Linked DNA regions of Homo sapiens: regions 2, 3 and 4 are each linked to region 1. Evidence: fine-mapped expression QTL. A gene starts in region 1. Each other region holds a variant in brackets. All regions are shown on one strand. Distances are from middle to middle. Region 1 holds the start of KIF16B (kinesin family member 16B). Region 2 overlaps LOC105372542 (a long non-coding RNA gene). Region 3 overlaps KIF16B (kinesin family member 16B). Region 4 overlaps KIF16B (kinesin family member 16B).

The links. PIP is the estimated chance that this variant, and not a neighbour inherited with it, causes the effect. A credible set is the group of variants that fine-mapping cannot tell apart.
Region 2: its variant is the best candidate, but not a certain one, in a credible set for the expression of KIF16B in prefrontal cortex (GTEx, PIP 0.58).
Region 3: its variant is the best candidate, but not a certain one, in a credible set for the expression of KIF16B in whole blood (INTERVAL, PIP 0.51).
Region 4: its variant is the best candidate, but not a certain one, in a credible set for the expression of KIF16B in thyroid (GTEx, PIP 0.66).

What each region holds. Positions count from the first base shown.
Region 1 is chr20:16,570,552-16,576,063 of GRCh38, forward strand. KIF16B (kinesin family member 16B) reads right to left here and starts at 2,897. Exons shown (of 26, transcript NM_024704.5): 1 at 2,678-2,897. The coding sequence starts at 2,724. It overlaps LOC124904875 (a long non-coding RNA gene), which reads left to right and starts at 4,752. Exons shown (of 2, transcript XR_007067539.1): 1 at 4,752-5,176. RefSeq lists an enhancer at 2,654-3,175 and silencers at 2,788-3,017, 2,804-2,933.
Region 2 is chr20:16,611,293-16,616,804 of GRCh38, forward strand. It overlaps LOC105372542 (a long non-coding RNA gene), which reads left to right. Exons shown (of 4, transcript XR_937286.3): 1 at 1-2,376. Among named protein-coding and RNA genes, the nearest start is that of KIF16B, 41 kb to the left of the region's middle. The variant G/A (reference allele first, on the strand shown) is at 2,636.
Region 3 is chr20:16,269,404-16,274,915 of GRCh38, forward strand. KIF16B (kinesin family member 16B) reads right to left here. Exons shown (of 26, transcript NM_024704.5): 26 at 2,701-4,008. The coding sequence ends at 3,850. Among named protein-coding and RNA genes, the nearest start is that of KIF16B, 300 kb to the right of the region's middle. The variant C/A (reference allele first, on the strand shown) is at 2,869.
Region 4 is chr20:16,527,357-16,532,868 of GRCh38, forward strand. It overlaps KIF16B (kinesin family member 16B), which reads right to left. Exons shown (of 26, transcript NM_024704.5): 2 at 1,015-1,084. Among named protein-coding and RNA genes, the nearest start is that of KIF16B, 43 kb to the right of the region's middle. The variant A/G (reference allele first, on the strand shown) is at 2,521.

The DNA.
Region 1 (5,512 bases):
CTTTCCTTATAAATTAGGTCAAGTATATTCAGTTGCCAATTTATATATCTCTTTCTACTCACTGCCAACTTCTGAATCATTGACTCTCCTTAAAAGTACTGTTGGGAAGGTTATCAACTAGCCTTGTCTTCAAGACCAAGGACACCATCTTATTCTCATCATCCTGGCAATATTTGACACTAACCCCCACCACCTCCTTCAGGATGCTCTTCTCCCTTTCCTGCCATGACCATTTGCTGTGCTGGTTCTCCTTTACGGACTGCAAGCCAATCTTCTCCCTGAAATCCTAAAGAGGGGCATATCCCAATGTCCAATCCCTGGCTCCCTTTTCTTCTCACGTAACATCCTTAAATTGTGGTTTATGTGCAAAAGATTTCCAAATGTCGATCCTCAAATCACCTGAGACCTAAACCCACATTTTCAGCTTTCTGCTGAACATCTCTAGCAGAGGGATGGATGTCCTTCCCACACTTCAGATAATGAACAAGGTCAACATGCGTGAAACACTTGCTCTGTGCTTGTACTTGACACTTAATACATCTCATGTAACTCTCCACATCCAAGAGAGAACATACCAACTTCATTGTCCACCTTCCTCAAACCTGTTCACCTCCTTCAGCATCAAACCTCAGTTAATGACTCTACACTCGCATTCTTCCCCCTTCTTCCCATCCAGTGAGCTGCCAAATCCTGCCAATTCTGCCAGTGAGTGGTCTTCCTGTAACTATCCTGCCTTCCAATTTCATCTCTGGCTCAAACTGCTAATCACCTGCCTCTTACCTCAATCTTGACACCACCAGAGTTCTCTACTGAGAATATAAATAACATCACGCGAATCTGCCTCCCCAAAGCCCATGGCCTCTGGACTTATTTCCTGCCATCCCTCCATGTACCTGGGCTCCAGGCCTACACTGGCAAGGCACTGAACTCACAGTTCCTGTCCCAGCAGGCCCAATACTTCACAAGATTCATGCCAGTACATAATCCCTCTCTCACCATGGCTCACCAGGTCTCATTCCCCTTGTATCCCAGACAGCACCCTGAGGAATGCTATGTGTTTGGTAGGTGCTTAACAAATACTTTTTTTTTTTTTTTTGAGAGGGAGTCTCGCTCTGTCACTGATGCTGGAGTGCAGAGGCACGGTGTCGGCTCACTGCCAGCTCTGCCTCCTGGGTTCACACCATTCTCCTGCCTCAACCTCACGAGTAGCTGGGACTACAGGCGTCCACCACCACGCCCGGCTAATTTTTTGTAGTTTTAGTAGAGAAGGGGTTTCACCGTGTTAGCCAGGATGGTCTCCATCTCTTGACCTTGTGATCCGCCCGCCTCGGCCTCCCAAAGTGGCTCCCAGGCATGAGCCACCGCGCCCAGCCTAACAAATACTTTCTAAAGTTACACAATACAATTTTCTAGCATGTGTTCACCTTTTTCCAAAAAAGAAAAAGAACTTCTATACACATGAAAATCCATAATAAAGAAAAATCGTTCTAAAGTTTATCTTCTATGATGGAATGTACACAGAAACAAAAATATTCCCTTAGAGCAAAAAAGTCAAACTCTTACTCTAAACAGCTTTAGAAATAACTCAAAAGTCACAAAAAGCAGATTCTGAAAACACTGGGTTTTAATGATTACAAACCAAAATAATGATTCCCTACTTGCCAAGAGAAGAAACAGATTTAGATGAGTCAAATAAGGTTCTGGAAATCTTTTGATTTTATGGCCTTCGGCTGCCCCAATCAGGCATCAGAACTACCAAACATTAACCTCCACAAGTTGATATGACAAAAGCAAAAAGGCCCTATGGTAAGTCAAATATCCACCAACTTGGTAGAGAAGTCAATAAAATCAAATGGCTCTGTGTGAACCTTGCCTGTCACCTTGGAGGACACATCCCATTTCTACCTCATTCTTTGAAGTCAAACCAATTTAAAAAGTAACTTTTCCAAAGAAACTTTCTAAACGGATTAAAAAGAGGTCATTGAAAAGGGAGCACAGGCTATTTTTCAGTGAATGAAGAGAAGGATTCTGAAAAAGCATTACTTCGTAGAAATATATAACAAGATTAAATTTTGTGTGTAACACTCTTCCTCTCTCTTAATATCAGAGTATTTCAAACACGTGTAAAGCGTCCCTGACTTTTTTCTAGGAGTCAGGACTTTGTCAAAGTTTTCCCATCCACTCTCTAACATGAAGTTAGGAACTGCTAAGTTATCGATTAGACATTCAGGGAATCAAAATCATCTCTAACTGAAAGATTAAAAAGTAGCATGGTTAATTGTTAAGAGAACTTCTGAGTTGGTAGAAATGAGGGGTTCACCTGACAGTTCGTGGTGCCCCCCCTCAGCACTCTCACCTTCCCCCCAACTATTTTACATCTTCATGGTAACGTTCCCTTGATGCTTTTTTAAAGGGGGAACAAGAACATCTCAAGTTAATACGATGGAGAGAGTTAATAGAATCTTCTCCTTTACCACCAGGGTCCTCTCCAGGGCAATGTGAACGGGACAGCAGTGCACGAAGTCCTCCAGGCCCCCAGAGGCCACAGCCTGGGCCCGGTGGGCCAGGGACCAGCCGGTGACACTTTTAAGTCCAGGCTGGCTTTGGGGGAGCTGGAAACAGGCTTCCTCTGGGTGGGGGCGCGACGAGGGGGCGGGGCGCGGGCGGCCCCACTCACCTGCGATTCATGGGCCGGACCCTCACGGCCACCTTGACCGATGCCATCGCTCATCCCGAACCAGCCCGCGCGGGGTCCCACTAGCCCAGAACTCCGCGGTCGCCGGCGACGCTGGCTACTCAGATCGCGGCTCCCGCCCACTTCCCTCTCGCCCCCGCCCCTCTGCTCCCGGCCGGACCTGGAGTTCCGCGGCAGCCCCACCTGCCAGGCCACTGAGCATGCCCAGAACGGCTCCGGCCCGCGTGATCCATGCGCCACGGTTTGGCGGCGGCCGGGCGGTGCAGAGGGGCGGGGCCGCGGGGCCTGGAAGCAGCCTCCGGGATCTGCAAGTCTGGAAAGGCCACGTTGTGGACCTTGGCGCAGAGGTTATGGGGGCGACCCGGAGCGGATGGTTTCAGGAAAACTAGAACCCACCCTCATGGCCTGAACAACTGGAGAGAAGAGGATCGCAGCAATTTAAAGCCAGCGGCAAGGATCACAGTCCTGGGGTCAGGTGACCAAAGCCAGTTTTTCAGCCCTTAACAAGAACCTGGCTTCACCCAGCCAAACATGAGTTAACGTATCCATTTTACACACGAACAAACTGAGGCGCAGAGATGATCACAGCTTGTTGGTGGCAAACTCCGCTAGGGCCTTCTCTGCTACCCTAAGGAGGTCCGACCGTATGTTTTGGACCCCTTAACTCGGGATACCGATAAACGAAAATTAATAGGGTGTTGGATGTTTTAAATGTGTGCGGGAATGTCATTATATTGGCTAGAATCAAACCTTATTTAGACTTGTTTTGCACTTTTGTACACTTTAGTAATTTTTAGTTTTAATCATAAGGGAGTTAAAGGCGAACACAACTGGTATTTTTTTTTTTTTTTTTTTTTTTTTGAGACAGGGTCTCGCTCGGTCACCCAGGCTGGAGTGTAATGCTGCGATCTCGGCTCACTGCAACGTCCGCCTCCCGGGTTCAAGAGATTCTCCTGCCTCAGCCTCCCGAATAGCTGGGCGTGCCACCACGCCCGGCTGATTTTTGTATTTTTAGTAGAGACGGGGTTTCACCATGTTGGCCAGGTTGGTCTCGAACTCCTGACCTCAAATGATCCGCCCGCCTTGGCCTCCCAGAATGCTGGGATTACAGGCGTGAGCCACCGCGCCAGGCCGACAACTGGTATCTTAAGGCTTAGGGCCTCTGGTAGAAGTGAGCTCCACCTCCCTTCCTGTGTAGAAGGTAAATGCATTCATTCATTCAGTGAATCGAGCATGCATGAAATCGTTTGCGCACACCCAGAAGCCCACCTGCGAGCCACAGGAGCAGCCATTCCAGGAAGCCAAGCTATAATGGGAGACGCAAGGAATGGAGGCGGAACTCCTGTTTTTAAGTCCTAGCTCCAACACTAGCCTTGTCAGCCTGTAATTCTGAATTACTGGGCGCCTCTGAGGCTTCTTGTCTCATCTGCAAATCAGGAACAACGGCATAGAGTGGTGAATGCATCAAGTGGGATGATGTCTGCAAGTACGCAACCCGCTTACACAAAGAATTATCTTTCCATAACCTTCCCTGGACCCCTAGGGCCAGCAGGGAATCATAGCCTCCCTTTGTTTCTAGAGCCCGGAAATCACTGGGTTTTCCCTCTGTCTGGAGCAGAGCTGGGTGCGAATTTGACCAACGGGTGGCAGGAACAGCCGGAGCAGGATATTAAGGAGCGGGCGAGCTTGCCAAGCATGCGCAGTAGCGGCGGGTTGGTTTGAGAAGCCGCCAGGGAGCCAGCGCGGCGACCTAGCTGGCTGGGGCAGGGGAGGGGCCCGCCTTATATGGGAGCTGCGTGGGGACAAACTGTTCGGGCCCAACGCGCGGGTCTGAGAGACAGCCACGCCTGCTCCGGGTCACTCCGGCCACCTGGGGGGCGTCGGCGCGCAGACTCTGGCCAGTTCAGTATTCAAACTCTTCAGGAGTGCTAACTTACTCATGACAGCGATTTTCTGTATCGGGGTTTCATTGGTCGGTGGTTTAGAAGGTTTTGCTCATTCATTCGTTAATGTAATTCCAACAACCTACACGTGTTTATAAGCCCCCTTTCCATCCACGACTTTGCTGTCTGACACAAAACGGACCATCGCAGCCCGGCAGACGCTTTAGACAACAAACAGCATGCCTGGAGCTTTTCAATAGGAAGCAGTAAGGCTTGATCATCACAGACGATACGGAACGGGCACTTTCTTAGCAGAAAATATTTCTATTGGGGCGTGAAGGAAGTTTCTGAAAGGGAAGATTATTATAAGATAAGGGGTTTGCTCATCTCAGACTTTAGTGTGCCTGCTTTAAAGTGTTTTGCAAACTTGAATGTTTAAAGGAATCACCTGGCGGTCTTGTGAAACTGCAGCTTCTAATGGGCAAGTCAGAGGGGAAGCCTGAGACATGGCATTTCCAGCACGTTCGGGGAGTGAAGATGCTGTCGGCTGCCACCCTCCCTGCAAGGAGCCAGGGGATAGATGACCTCTACGCAAACTGTGAGAGCTTAAAATAACTGATAGTGAAAAACAGTTACAGAAGCTCTAGGCCGGGCACGGTGGCTAATGCCTGTAATCCCAGCACTTTGGGAGGCCGAGGAGGATGGATTGCCAGAACTCAGGAGTTTGAGACCAGCCTGGGCAACACGGTAAAACCCTGTCTCTACGACAAAATAAAACAAACAAAAATAAAAGCCACGCATGGTGGCGTGTGCTTGTAGTCCCAGCTACTCAGGAGGCTCAGGTGGGACAATCGCTTGAGCATGGAAGGAGGAGGTTGCAGTGAGCCAAGATCGCACCACTGTACTCCAACCTGAGTGACAGAGTGAGACCCAA
Region 2 (5,512 bases), 41 kb after region 1:
CTATTTTGTGGACACTTAAATCCCTCTAATAAATTATATTTCTCCCTTCCGTGGTCTGGGATGTATTTCTCTGGCTTGCACTTAAAGGACCTTTACAGATAAAACTGTGAAAGTCATCACAATCTTGATTTCTGCTCCCAGTCCCGCCCCAGCTGCTGCCTTCCCAGAAGTCATCCTTCAGGTGTGGTTCTGTCTCAGTCAGCCCCAGTGACTTGCCTGCGGCTGACTTCTGTGAATTCAGGCTTCCATTGTCTACCTGGCTATGACTGTCATAGGGAAGCTGTTAGGGCAGCAGAGGTGCTGATCATTTAGTGACAGGTGCAATCGTTACTACTTCTTTCTAGCATGGGTGTTGTCTGACTTGGTGGGAGTGAGCAGGAAGGGAAGATGGTGGTGTTGGGGTTGGAACTACAGAATGGATGAAGTGAGAGGAGGGCAGAGGAGTCACAAGGAAGGACAAAGTAGTCAAAGTATAAAAACATCTCAACTACCATTTGGGGCCAAGGTTGAGTCTCTTATGGATTTTGCTTGGAGGACACTTTGGCCAGCTGTTTTTATGTTACCAGAAGTGGGAAGATTAATACATGGGTATTGGTCCAGATGGAAACAGGGCATATCTGGCTTCTGCATACTTATCTTCCAAAAGCTCATTTATAAAGCAGTTGTGTGGAACTCGGTATGTGTGTTCTCATGGAAGCAAAGTAATAAAGGGTGGCCATAAAAGCTCAAGTTAAGCCGGATCACAGCCGGGCCACTCCACATGCGGAGGCTCCATCTACCACGGTGAGGAGAGCTGGCCTGGAGATAGAGCTGATGCTGGACAAGCCGGGCTTAGTGATGGAGGGAGGAGACTGAGGCATCATTTGAGCCCCTGAATCTGTCTGTGCCTGCAGCACCTCTTACAAAGTTCCTGGTGATGCAGTCCCAGCCTCAGTAGACTCTCTTGTCCAAAATCTTCCTTGCACAACCACCACAAGCACCACAAACTACTCCTCTTTCCCTCTTTAGAATCCCAATGTCACATATTGCCTGTGGCTCTCAACTCAAATCTTAAAATGGACAGAGTTAAGTACCTTGCCCTTCTCAATCAGATGCCACCAGAAAGGAAAAATGAATGAAATGCAGTCACCATCCTTAGCTCAAAGCCTGGTGAGAGGGATAGAACAAATACAACTGATTGATGAAGCACAGAGAGGAAAAGCAACTTGGCCAAAGACACACGGCTCATTATCATGGGGTTTGAGTTCAAACCCAGACAGTCTGATTCCAGAGCCTGGCAAATTTGACTGCTGCTCATATTATCTCTCTTTCAACTGTGAAAGATGTATTCATAGGCATTTTTCTCAAGTTTTTATTTGAAAAGGCTTTGCCCAATGGCCCACAAAGACCTGGGGTGAAGGCAGGAGCTGGAATGGGTTTGTCCTTACCCAAATTTATCCTTCACTGGCCTGATGCTGCATGGTGGTTCCTGGGGATAACTGTTCCTCTGGTCCAAAGTATCACAATCTAAACAGATTTGCAGATGTTCAGCTTCCGTTTTGCCTTTATCAAGTTCAACTGACAGTCCAGTGGGACTGGTTGCATTTGTGCCATGCACTCCAGCCCTCTCCCTCCCACTCCCCACCCCAGCATGTTTCCCTGAGGAACTGGGAGAAGCTGCAGCTGTTGCCTCTGGTTTCCTTCAGCTCCTGCCACAGCAGCAGTTCTTCAAAATTTCATTACTTGTCTATATTTTCAGTAAAGTCACTCAACACTCACCGTTGTCCTGCTTTCCCCAGAGCATGTCACCTTCAGTCTTCAAGCACCAGATAATTAAGTTGCTAGCAAGGTGCTGCAGAGAGGGAAGCCATGCTGGAAATCCCAGGCTGGCAGAAACCTGGAGTGGAACTCTCTTCTTAGGACTTCATTTCCATGGCCAGAAGGAAAGCAGCCTTCCCTAAATTGCACCTGCCTCAAAGCTCTATTGCCTTGACCTCAATTAAAAAAGAAATTACGACAACATCCTTTAAAGAATGCCACTAACAGCCTCTTGGCCTTCTACGGGATACAGCAGCCAATTTGCTGGTCTGTCTCTATAGAAATTGTTTCTCCACTGTGTGGAGAAAATAAAATCCAAGATGGAGATGGTTATGTAAGAGGTATCTAAATGGGATCTGCGGGGCATAAGGAGTTGGATCCCAGTCATGTGCACACCCAGATGAAATCTGACTTGTTGAACTGGGCCAAATTGTAACACCAACTGCATTTGACTTGTACTGTTTATACTGGGCCTGATCACCAGCTTCCTGGAAAGACAGCTAGGCCAAACAAGACTGAAAGACATCCTAAGCTGTTAACCAGCCATCATCAATCATGCACTATATGAAAACCTTCCAGGTATGTAAACTTACAGTAAACCTTTATAAGCCCCTGCCCAACCTTGCCTGATGGAGCCGCTTGCTAGATCTGTGTGTCCTGAATTGCAATTCTTAAGACCCTGATGAAAACACCTTTTGTTTGTTTGTTTTACTGCAGTGTTGGTTTTGTTTCTTTTTAGCTGACAACTGTCTCAACAACAGATTTCTTTTACCCATGTGATTGCTACTTAAAATGGGGTCAATGCCCACATCCCCTGGCAGCTTATTAGAAATGTAAA[G/A]TCTCCACCCCCATCCCAGATCTTCTGAATCAGAATCTTCAGTTTAAGAAGCTCCCCAAGTGATGTACCTTTAAGTTAGAAAAACACAGATCTAGACCAGTGGTTCTCAAACTTTCCTGAGCATTCAAGTCCCTGGGGGGCTTGTTAAAACCCGGATAGCTGGGCCTCACTCCAGGGTTTCTGATTCTTTTGATCTGGAGGGAGGCCCGAGAATTTGCATTTCTAACCAGTTCCGAGATGACGTAGACATTACTTGCTGAGAACCACACGTTGAACATCCCCAAGATAGATCATCACTTCAGAAACCGTGATGAAAGCTCTTTCTTCCTTCATTTTCAATCCATTGCAGACTGATTCTTTTGTAAAATATAATAAACATAAATTATAAAAAAATAGAAAAGACATGAAACAAAGCCCTGATTGATTAACGTTATTGTTAGATTCAACAGACATAAAATTACTGTCAAATTGCTGTAAGAGTTTCTAAACATTTACTCAATTTCTGAACTTATCTAACACAGACCCGTGACAAAGAGTTTGGAGATCTTGCTTTGAGTAGCACTGGTCACAGCAGCAACTCTAAAGTACAGTAGGGATACCCCTGGGGAACTCCAAGACCCCTTTGGGGGTCCACAAGGTTGAAATAATGTTCGTAATGATGCTAACATGTTAGTATTATTATGTATGGTAGAGTTTTCCAGAGGCTACATGTAATGCAAAGGATTGGACTGCTTTAAATGCAGAAGCAGATGACAGAATACCATCAGTTGTCTTCTTTCAAGCCCGACATTAAGGAGGTTTGCAAAAAATATAAAACAGGCTGAGTGTGGGGGCTCACACCTATAATCTCAGCACTTTGGGAGGCTGAGGAGGGAGGCTTACCTGAGACCATGAGTTTGAGACCAGCCTGGGCAACACAGCGAGACCTCCATCTCCACAAAAATAAAAATATTAAAATTAGCCAGTCGTGGTAGCATGCACCTGTAGCCCCAGCTACTTGGGAGGCTGAGGTGGGAGGATCATCTGAGGCTTCAGTGAGCTATGATCGTGCCACTATACTTCAACCTAGGGGACACAGAGCAAGACCCTCTCTCTAAAAATAAATAAGGTAAAACAGTGTCACTCTTGATTATTTCTGATTTTTTTGGTTTCAGAAAATAGTTATTTTTATAAAATATAACAATGAATCTGTTACTATTATTAAATTAAATTGTTGAAGCCCCTCAGTTTTAATATCTACTGTGATAAATATGGACTGTACAGCTCACATAAACAAAAGCTCTTTATAGTTCTTGATAGTTCTGAAGGATGTAAAGGGGCCCAGAGCCCAAACCGTTTGAGAACAGCTGGTCCCAGTCATCTTCTGAGAACAATTGCACTCATCTTGCTTGCGATTTCCAAATGCCTGAGTCTGCGGAAACGCAGGCCTGAGGAATTTGGAGCAGAACTGCAGTAGGCTGCCTTCTTTCTAAGTTGAACAGTAGGAAAAAGAGGGGTGTAGAGTGTAATTACGTTTTACTTGTTGGCTGTCTGCCCATACATAGGCCAGGGTAGAGCTTGTGACTCATTCTCTATTTGTTCCATTTAGGACTCTGTTGAGCTTCAAGTTACAGATATCACCAAAACCGTGGCTTCGGCAAATTAGATTTGTTTTTCTCACATAACAAGAAATATGGAGGTCCATTTTAGTGGTTTAATAATGCCACTAGTGACTGATTCTTTCTTGATTTTTGCTCCCATATATTTAGTGTATGGTCTTCGTTTCTTATGTTCATTTCATGGTTCCATCTACTTTCCAAAGATGGGGAAGGGTGAAAGGCAAAGGTGTCTGCTGATTGAGCCAACCCCCTTCAGTGTTTCCTGCTTGCAACACATGGCCTCTTCTATCTGCAGTGAGCGCTAAGACATGATTTCTAACCAGACGTGCTGCTTGCCTAAATAAAATCAGGATTTTTTTTAACAAGAAAAAGGGGAGAATGGGTATTGGGAGGCAACTGTCAGTATCTGCCACATGCCAGAATCCTTAGAACTTAGCAGAATGCCTAGCCAAGAGTAAGGCTCAATAAATGTTGGTTGGATGAATGAGTGAGCTATATTACATGCACACAATCAGGTCTAAGGGGTCACAAAATGACATCAGAGTCAGATAGAGAATGGTAGTGGGGATAGTAATTGAACTGATCCATGCACTGAAAAAGGAGGGGACCCTTCTACCCCCTCATCACTCACTTTCTCTTAGGCCTTCCCTGAGGTCTTTATGTTCTTACCTCTGCAAGTTCTTTTCCTCCGTTGGCCCCTGGTACCTATATGGTGACCCTTAATGGAGCAGTCCTGAGGCTCTAGAAAAACTTACAGCAGCCTTATCTTCCCAAAGTGCTCTAGCCCCTAAAATACTCCTCCTTTACGCCAAAAGATTCTCTTTTCAGCTGTGTTTAAAGTGAAACAATTTTTTATTACGAAAAATTTTGAAAATGTAAACATGCAAAAAAGATAAGCAAGACTGCTATAATCTAGAGCAAACCAATCTCAATATTTTGATGCATAGCCTTCTAAAATTTTTCTCTTTCTATATATACTTTCTTGTTTACAAGTTTGGAATACATACTATACTGTTTTGTAATTCCTCAATTTACTCTATCATAAACATTTTTCCATGCCAAGTAACAAATGTGTGCTATAATTCTAAGTGTTGCTACCTTGGATTCCATTGTAATGTTTCATTTGCAATTGATCTCACAAGTTCCCACAGCTCCACAAATCAGACCTCAGGATTCAGATCCACTATGTCAGCTAGGGTCCTATGAGAAGCAAATGCCAAGATAGAAGGAGAAATGCAAAAGATTTAATGGAGGAAATTCTGTACAGGGTAAAGGGGAA
Region 3 (5,512 bases), 300 kb before region 1:
TTAAAGTTTAACAGGGTTCTACTGGATCCCAAATTATCATTCTCAAGGTAACACCCTGGTCAACATTAACATCACCCCTCTAACTCAAAGGTACCACTACGGGATCAATTTGAAACAGGATGCTTCAGAAATTTGTAATAATGGGCAACTTTTGTCAATTTGGAAATAATTCCCTATGTGCAAAGTTCAAAATTGTGTACCACAGAATCATTTCCTATCTAATGAACTGTCATCAGTAAAAGCAGTCTCAACAGAAAAAAAACCAAAAACCAAAAAACAAACAAACAAAAAAAAAACCAAGAAAGTCAATAGCCAGGTCTTCTTGCATGTGAAAAAGGAGGAATACACAAGGTTTAATTTGCGAGAATGAGTCTCTGTAGATTAATGGTCTTTAATTAGTTTTCCCAAAACCTAAATCACCTGTCATGATAAGCTAAGTAAAACTAAAGCAGTTAATTTTGCCATCTCACTGTCCTTGTCCCTTCCAGCCCCTAGTTAATTTTGCCATGGATTTATTTTGCCTAACTTTTCTACTCCCCTTCTTTTATTTAACATGAAAAAAGAAAGACCTTTCTGATAAAGTCGGATCTGAATCACTCCTATAGGTGTGTGTCAGATTATGGAAGGAGAAGGGTCTCCTGCGGCAGAGACGTTCAACTGTCAACTGATGACACCTCAAGGCAACATTTTAATCAAGGCAACATTTTAGGCATTTATAAACGTCAGTGTACTTGAAAACCTAATGCTACTGTTTGAAGCATGTCAGGCCTGAAGCGCTATGCACATTCTCTTTGAGGGGACAAGGCAAGCCTGTGGCAGGCTCAGAGTATCAGTAAGGAGCCACATCCCCTTAGCACGTGGCTCTGCATCCCTGACTGCGCACCTGAGGAAATGGGGTCTTGTGGTTTTGTGCTGCAGGAGATGTGTCCAGAAAAAAAAAAATCTTGTCTTTAAAAGTTGAATACAGAACACCAACGTGACCCTGCACCACAGCTGCTCCCCAAGGGTGCCTCCACCTCTGAGTCTATGGCATGTTCTAGCCGTGAAAGCTTTTGGCTGCTTCTGCTCAGACTTGGACACATATGCTGTCTACAGCTCTGAGTAGATCAGGGACCAAATTGGGCAGAACTAGCTCTTTCTGCATAGAATTGTAAATAGAATCGGCCCTGGGGTGGGATACCCTGTTTGTGTATCTTCAAATCATCCCCCATTATGAGCCACAGAATCTTCTAGATGTCAGTCATTGGGGAAGCCAGCATGACTTGGTTACTCCCTATTCATATGCCAAAATTAATCACGAGGTTAAATGTGAATCTTTCTAATTCAGCAATAGCAAGGTCTGAGTGGGAACTGGGCGGAAGGTTACAATACCAGTGATATCAACAAATTTGGTGCACATATTTATCATGCAAGCAAGACCTAGGAGTGAATGTCAAAACTACTTAAATAAAAAATTGTTTAAGTTCCTTAGATTTGTCCAACCGACTGCAAAAGTATTTATGTTCATGACACTTCAATTTGAATTGCCTAAAGTGGTCAGCTTGGCGTTACTTTGTTATTTGATGACTTGGAAGTAATAAAATATCCATTTGCTAATTTTCTTTCACTCTTTTAAATTAGTCCAAATCAATGGAGTTTCCATTTGTTATCCTAATTCTGTCATCTGTCTTATCTTCACTCCAGAAAGGAATTCTGTTGTTTAGATGTGACTTTTCATTTGCTTTTCAACTTTCCCTCATGTTTTATTCAGAATCAGCTGCCTTTAAATCAGATTGGAAGTATGTACTTCACGTACACATATGAGGGACTGTAATGAGTCCGAATGACATGGTTTATTCCTCTGCTGTAACCATGAGCTGGAATGAAACTCAAGAGACCATCCAGTACCACAGCTTCATTTTCAGATGGACAGACTGAGGCCTAGAGAGGCAAAACGACTCCCATGTTATGACCGGCCTTGGCCAGAGCTTGCTAGTAGTACTCAAACTCCAAACTCAACTATAATTACTTAAGGTGAGGATTAGAATAGAAGGATCTTCTGATTTCAGCACTTCTTACAAACACATGTCTATTTATTCTTGCCAAACCTTCTGTGTGATTTTAACAAAATGCTTACCAGGAGCCTAGTCTCCAATACCGGCCTCAAAGGCCAAGAGATAGATTATCTGGTCAGTTTGAAGAGAAACCACTTAGTTTACTCAGCAAATGAGGGACCATCTTTAGGGCTTAAGACTCCTCTTAAATAAATGACCTATGGTTAATTATTATCTACCCAGCTCTTATCCCTTAATCTCTAGTTTGAAATTCTCTGGTAGTAATTGCTCCTAAACCTATTCCTGTAATCACAACTGCAGACAAAAGCAGGTCCTTCTGCAGCAAAAATGTCCTCATTTTTTTTCACACTATACTATGATATTTAATTAGTGCAATACTAGTTTTCCTCCTTATAGGGATAATTGCACGTTTATGCATATTTTTCAGGTTGGAGAACTTTGTTGTGAAGGCATTCTCTAGAAGATGGAATGCAAACATGTTCTGTTAACCATTCATTTACGACTTCAATCATTACTATCACTGCATCTTCTGCAACACAAATGCTGAGTTATACATTATGCATATTTCCAAGAACATTAGATCAATGTTTAAACAGACTAGTATGAATGATCATGTTACAGACTTAAAATAAGCTGAGCTACAGGGTAGATGCCATAACTTCATTTAATATTGATAGCAGCTCAATTTAAATTTTGAAAAAGCAAATACATTTAATAAAATTGGTGTGAATTATTACATATTTTGATGGAACTACTGTACAGAATGTATACATATATAAATCTATAGATAGAATTATATACATTTGAGTATATA[C/A]CACATACATATTTTTTCCACTCACATTTTTCTCTTTAGTAAAACAAAGCAGTTTTACTGTACACAGAAGTGCAATGCTACATTAAGTCCTGAGTAATTTAAGGTATCATTAATAAACTGCTATAAATTCTAGTTTTCCAGCCAAAGATCCAATAGATTCTGTAACAAAAAATGTGAATAATACTTAAAAATATGCATTTAGCTTTGCGTTCATTTTGTGCTTAGCAGAAAAAGCTCAAGAATGCACAGTAGCCATTTAGATTTGGGAGAATGTTCTTGAATATTCAAGGTTAAATAAATATCCTAATTGTAGGGATTTATAGAAGTTTTAAGTAATGTTGTCTACATCCAATTTGTCAAGCATGGAAGACTACAGTCATGATTGGATCAAAAAATCCCTTTTGCAGAATATGAAATTCTGTGTAAACATCAGTGTTTGGGTTTTATATAAAAGTTCTGATTCAAATGAGGGAAAAAAAGAAAAAAATACAATGAAATAATTTAAAATGCTTTTCTTGGAATATAGCCAGCCACATGGAAGAAATATAAAAAATACGAGTATATTTTGGTGAAAGAGGAAACCAGATGAAAGTCATTTAAGGGTGGTCTGGTAAGCCACCCACTTTGGGAGGTCCCAGGCTGGCTGGGCTCAGGGAACCCACGATGGCCCAACCACATCTATCTTGCCACAGGGGACGAACTTTGCTGCGCAGTGAGAAGGAAGCACTGTGGGAAAAGGCCACGTTCAACCGCAATGGAACGGTAACGGCTGCCTGTCAGGGCCACATCAGCAGGCAGAGCATCCCATCCCCAAACTCAGGCACTAGGTATGGAAACGTGAGGTGGCCCGGGCCCGCTGCTGCATGTCTGTCTTCAGCAGGAGGAGGCAGACCCGGATCCTCGCATGGGGGAGCTGCCCTGCATCGGAGCCCGCTTCGACGAGAAGGCACTGCTGTGGTGGTTCCTCCATCACCCCTGGCTCTACCCCGTCCCGTGGCTGCTGTAGTCAAAGACTCCTTTCTTGAAGAATGGTGAAAACTCACAAATGGTATGTTTCGAGAGAGTCAGTCCCACTTTGTTGATGTGGAGGGGAGATGTTGCGGACTGGAGCATCACGCTGAAAAAGTCCCTGAGGTATTTCTGTGGAAGAGACAAGAGTTAAGAACATGGTCAATTGGGAGGTCAAGGCGGGTGGGATCGCTTGAGCTCAGGAGTTTGAGACCAGTCCAGGCAACATGGAGAAACCTCATCTCTACAAAAAATAAAGAAATTAGCTGGACAGGGTGGTGCACTGAGGCAGGAGGATCACTTGAGCCCAGGAGGTAGAGGCTGCAGTGAGCTGTGATGGTGCCACTGCACTCCTGCCTGGGTGATAAAGCAAGACCCTGTCTCAATCAATCAATCAATCAATCAATCAATCAATCAATCAGAATACGGTCAAGGTACTGTTGGATGGTGTCAAGAAGAGAAAAAATTTCCAGAAACAACTTCCCACCCACCTGGAAAGTGCTATCATTGTCATTAAAACCAGCACGTGAGGAATGCCCTCCACTGTCCCACCTATCATCAGACCAACCAGAGAAGACGGAGTCACAAAATACATATGCACAGAAGAAATATCTTTGGCTCAGCACTGATTCTGGGCAGCACTGTCTCAGATCTACAGCAGACAATGCCTAGGAAAATGTCAAGGGTGCCAGGCACAGGGGATCTGCCTCTCAGCCACAGTGTCACTAGTTAATCTCTTATTTAAAAAAGTCATTTCCTCCCCGCTCCCAGTTACTCATTAAATAGAAAGATGATTAAAAAAAAAAAACAAAAAAAAAAGGCCGGCCATCTGTACAAGGTTAAATGTGCTGCTTACTGGTATTTTAAAATTGCACAGTCAGTATCTGTTTTGAATCCTTCTTATAAAATAAAGGGAAAGCAATACTGAGGACAAGAGGGTCAGTTCCAAGTACTGATATTTACAGATCTTTTTGCATGTCCTATAATCATCAACAAAAAGGAATCCTTACTACAATTACTTGCTCCAGACCCCTGCTGCATGTTTGTTGCAACATTATCTGCCGTTTTTGGCACTGAGAAAGCAAAGCATATGTGAGACTAGGCTCTGGGAACTGGGGATAAAATCAGATGTGGGAGCTGGAGGGATGTGTTCAAGGAAAAGAGGGCACACAAGAATAGTTAATATATTTTAGGCCAGGCAAATCTCATCTGTAACAGAAAATGGGCTGGAGGGAAGGGGTTAGACCCAAACCTTTATTATTGTCTCAGTGTGCTTAAAAAACCCAAACAACCCTGGCACAGTCTTAGGAATTACACATAATAATTCTGGACTCTGAGTAACAACAAAAAATTTGTGAAAGCAACATGGCCTAAGCCTGGAGCAGTAGTTCCCAACAAGAGGCAGTTCTGCCCCATAGAGTGTTCAGCAGTGTTTGGTGGCAGTTTTGAGTGTCACATAGGGGTGCACAGGCAGTGCACCTGGTGGATGCTGGCCAGGGATGCCAAAGCACAGGACAAAGAATTATCTGGCCCAAATGTCGACGATGCCACAGTTGAGAAGAGAAAGTAGAATTTAGCTACCTCTATGAATTGCCAACCTGAAATTTCCTTCTGAAAGAAGACATTCTACTCAACG
Region 4 (5,512 bases), 43 kb before region 1:
TGGAGATCAACTCGCACTACTTTGAAATTGGATCTCAAAGTACCCAATCCTTTGAGCCATAAATTAATAGAAATCTCCACAGATGTGAACAGGAGATAGATCTGACTTGGCCATGGAGCATCATGTCTCAGAAACCCAGACCTAAAAGTTAATGACAAATATCAAAGGAGAAAGGCATTGAACCCATAAAGTACTTCATTTCTTTCTTTTTTGTTGTTGTTTTTTTGTTTGTTTGTTTGAGATGGGGTCTTGCTCTGTTGCCCAGGCTGGAGTGCAGTGGCACAAACAGGGCTCACTGTAGCCTTGATCTCCTGGGCTCAAGTGATCCTCCCATCTCAGCCTCTCGAGTAGCTAGGACCACAGGTGTGCACCACCAAGCCCAGCTCTGATTTCTTCAATATTAATTTTATACCCCCGTTACCCTCCTCAGCGAAAAGCATTCAGTGCCCTTTAAAAATTTCCTAACCAAATAAACAAACAGGATATTTTTCAGTGCCAAAGGAGAAACTTGCCATCTTGAAAATTTTTTTTAACTTTTTTTCCAGAAAAGAAATTTGGTGGTTTTTTTTAATCTTTCCTCCCTGAGTTTTGAATAATAGTATCAGTTCTTCTTCAAGGATTACCAAACATGATCCTCTTCATTAAAAATGGAAAAAAATATAGGGGCAAAGCTTATTTAATGTTCACAGAACACAGTCAATTGCCAGGCTAAGTCCCTACTACGAGGACACAGGATGAAAATGCCCGAATCTGGGATAGACTCAGGAGCTCCTGGACCAGAGCAACAGCTTGGATTTGGCTTCCAGATCAAATAAAGCCAGGAATGGGAAAGGAAACGGGATCAACTCTTCTGCTTCAAGACTGAGCCCAAGCCAGGTGCAAGCTGACGTGGCTAACTGCACTGGAAAGGAGGGTGTGGAAACAGCAGACAGGCTTTATTTACTCATTAGTCATCCCCACAGTAAAGCAATCATGGGGCTCTTGGAACTTAAGCAAGGCCAGGTCATGACTTGCCTTTAAGTTTGTGATTGTCGTTTTGCTTTTCTCCATCTGAATAATGAACTTGGCCTCCAAGTCCTTTTCCCTGCAATACAAATAATTCAGTAGTGGTTAGAAGAGAAAAGATTATTAAAAACAAAACAAAACTAAACCCATTTGTTTTATTTACTTTTTACGTTAGGAGTTTATTTTCAAATGGCATCTGAGGAGCAATCCCAGACACGGCTCCTCCCAAATCCTTACTAATATAACATGAAGATACGCAAAATGATGCCACCATCAACAATTATGGCTGATACACAGTGTGTTGTTAAACCCTGAAAGAATTTCCAATTGTAAGCCAAAAGAAGAGTAAATGAAATAACAGACACCACAAAGAGCTAAGACTCACCAAAAAAAAGTAGCCCCCCTCACCTTGTTACAAAGAGAAAGAGACCTTAGCCCCCTACCCAAGATGAAAACCAAAGAGAAAACTGGAGTGGTTACAAGCAGGTGCTGCTTCCAGAAGCAGCCAGGGCACTGTTCCCTCCTCCTACCTTCTTTCTACATCTGTTCAGAAACTGCATTTCTCAGAAAACAGCAGAACAGGAGGACTCCTAAAGAGTACAGTTCCCTAGAATAAATGACCATACATTTACCCAATGGAGTGTGACGCCACTGAACAAGGAATGAGGAAGATCCCTATATCTGTTATGGCGTGGCCACTGGGATATACTGGGATATACTGTTCAGTGGAGACAAAAGATGGAGAAAATCTATGTAGAAAAATACAAATTATATTTAAACACTTTTTTAAAACCTATGTATTTTTCAAAAGGCTACCTAGGAAAAAAAGGGAAATTGAGGATAAGGATTTGGGGCAGACAAGGGAAGTGGACAAGGATAGAAGCTAGATTTCTGCAAATATACTTTGATCTGGAGGTCATCTTTAGAACGATAAAAATGATTTATGCAAAAATAAAACAAGAGTTTCAAAAAACAAGCTATAATTTAGAAGTAAGTTGAAGCGAATGAATCTAGCTGTGTACCACAAAGTGAGAAACTATTTCAATTACGACTCTATAGAGGAATTTGACTGTATACTATAATGAGATATATCCTAAAAAGAAAAAGAACTACAAAGAAATCTTAAAGCATTTTTAGTAATCATATTTTTGGTGGTAATGTAAGTGCCATTATTCTGAGATTTCTGTCTGTGTACTGTGGGACATTACAAGAGTAATGATGTTGGTGCCCTAGAGAACCAAGGTTTTTGAAGTGGCTGAATGAGATACAAACATAAGTTTGATGAGGTTAAGTAAAAACTGTAGTCCTGGCCGAGCACGGTGGCTCACGCCTGTAATCCCTGCACTTCAGGAGGCAGAGGCGGGCAGATCACCTGAGGTCGGGAGTTCAAGACCAGCCTGATCAACACGGAGAAACCCCATCTCTACTAAAAATAGAAAATTAGCCGGCCATGGTGGCGCATGCCTGTAATCCCAGCTACTCGGGAGGCTGAGGCAGGAGAATCACTTGAATCCA[A/G]GAGGCAGAGGTTGCAGTGAGCCAAGATCACGCCACTGCACTCACTCCAACCTGGGCAACAAGAGTGAAATTCTGTCCCAGAAAAAACTGTAGTCCTGAATCTAATTGGAAGGAGTAGCAGAAACTTCATCTTTCATCCAAAATTTAAAAAACAAACAACTCCCTTGCTTTGTCCATTGAAAAGGCCTAGAATCTTACACTCAAATTATAGCCTATAAATAACATTTTCCACTAAAATAAGTCAGGGTTCCTTGGAGAAGTGATTCAATCCAAATACTGAACCATCTCTTCACACTATAAAGCAGGAACACTAACACAGGTCACTAGGGCTGTGGCGGGCACCTTCTAACACGGCTCCCAGTGATTGCCCGGCACTCACACCCTGTCGTGTGCGATCCTTGCCCTTGACTATGGGCTGGACCTGGTGAGTCACTTCTAATGACTACAACACAAACACACCCAAGTGATGGTCTGTCACTTCCCAGGCGGGCTTTCAAGACTGTGACTTCTGTCTTGCTGGCTCTCTCTTCTGCCCTCTCTGTTTGAGCCCTGGCAGTGTGAAAAGTCAGGGACGACAGAGTGAGGACCCCTGTGGACAGACCCAGCCAGCAGGAAACAGGGGCCCGCTAGCAGCACGCCAGACAGCCTGGCAGGGCACGCTCCCCAAGCCCGCACCGGGACATGATGATGAGAGATGACTGGGAAGCCGTCTGGCACCCTGACTGCAGCGCTAGGGGAGAGCCGGAGTCAGAGGACCCTGCTCAACCCCACCCAGATTCCTGACCCACAGAAACTCTGAGATAATACATGCTGTGTTTTGTTGTTGTTGTTTGGTTTTTTTTGAGACAGGGTTTCGCTCCTGCCACCCAGGCTGGAGTGCAATGGCATGATCTCAGCTCACTGCAACCTCCACCTCCTAGGCTCAAGCGATTATCCTGCCATAGCCTCCCAAGTAGCTTTGACTACAGGCACGCACCACTGCACCTGCCTATTTTTGTATTTTTTGTAGAGATGGAGTTTTGCTGTGTTGCTCAGGCTGGTCTCAAACTCCTGAGCTCAAGCAATCCACCCGCCTCGACCTCCCAAATTGCTGGGATTACACACACGAGCCACCATGCCTGGTCAATACATATTGTTTTAAGCCCCTAAGTTTTGGGGTAATTTGTTATACACTAAAAGAAAACTAATACAAGGACCCTGTCAAAAGGACTCAGGAACCAACCTGCATAAGTTCCTGCTGCCCAAAGTTGAGAAATCTGGACAGCAAAGAAACTAAAAACCAACTGAAATAGATAGAATATATTTAAGCACATAAACTCATAACTTAAAAATAAAAACTCAGTGGTCCCCTCTGAAAGATCAAAGGATCTGTCTCATTATTTTGAAAACTGTTAAAAGAAAGAATCAAGCATTTATCTTGCATTTCCAAAACTATCTATACTTCAAGTAACCAAACAACTGTGAAAGAAAGTTTCTCCTTTAGAGATATTCCAGCTAAAAAAATAAAGAAGTAATAACAAAATATCATTTCGTCACCCCTGGTGAATTAATGGCTCTAGGGAGGGACCACCGATGGTTACCAGGCCAGCCACTGTGAGAAAACCAGGTACGAGGTGTATTCTACCTGAAGTACCAACGCGACTGCCCCAGGGTTCCTGTCCTTCCCTCCCAGGGATGGCCTGACTCTGACCTAGAGCTGCCCTATAGGGAACCAGCAGGAATGACAAGTGTAAGTGGGAACACGCCAATGTTCTCAGGTGGGGGAATCGGTAAAATCCAGCCTGTGGGAAAGGCAGCAGGGTAAATGACTCAGCATATTCCAAATTATGACAAATTGCAAAGAATATAACGATGAAAGGGAAATCTAAAGCTAGAAAAGACATTAAAGACATATCAACCAACTGGATCCCAATTCAAACAGAAAAAGCACTTTGAAAATTATAACCATTTGGGAGGCCGAGGCAAGTGGATCATCTGAAGTCAGGGTTCGAGACCAGCCTGGCCAACATGGCAAAACCCCGCCTCTACTAAAAAGACAAAAAATAGCCGGGTGTGGTGGCGGGCACCTGTAATCCCAGTTACTTGGGAGGCTGAGGCAAGAGAATCGGTTGAATCCAGGAGGCGGAGGTTACAGTAAGCCGAGATTGTGCCATTGCACTCCAGACTGGACGACAAGAGCAAAACTCCGTCTCAAAAAAAAAAAAAAAAAAATTATAACTTACGTAGGGAAATGTTAACACTGACTAGATATTTGATGATATTAAGGAATTATTGCTAATATTGTAGGTATGATAATAGTATTATGACTTAAAAAACCTTTTAGAGATACATATTGAAATATTTACAAATCAAATGATATGTTACCTGGGATTTACTTTAAAATAATCCAGGTATGGGGAAACCAGCTAAGGGGTAACATCTTGGCCAGCTCAGACGAACAGAGACAAAATAAATATCAGTTGTGAACAAACCCAAAAAGCATTTGCAGTAAACACCATTTGGGAACTACAGCAGATTCCCAGGGCCAAGTTTAACATTTCCAAGCCTGAAAAATGCTTCCACTCCAACCCACCAGGAGTTGGGCAATTCCATTGTGGACCCAAAAGTAAGAACTGCTTCAGGGACACCCCATGTTCATGTGGCTACAAAACAAATACTTCATAAAATTAAACCTTTCCTACAGCATTCAATTACCAAAGCATGTCCTGCTCAACAAGAGAACAAACCACCTGGGTTTATTTATATCACAGAACACCAAACCCAGATTCCTCCCATTCCCACAGTGGGTCCTTTTTTCTCAATCAATCACTAACCTAATGCATCTAGAGCTTTCATCTTAAAACCACTATTATCAACAAATACCTCTCAGGAACACAAAATTATCCAGCTACATAGAAATATTAGAAGTGATCGTGGTAATGCTCACATTGACTTGTCAATTCTTGCCTAGAAAACAAAGTAATGTGGCTCATACAATGCCCACCACTCCTGC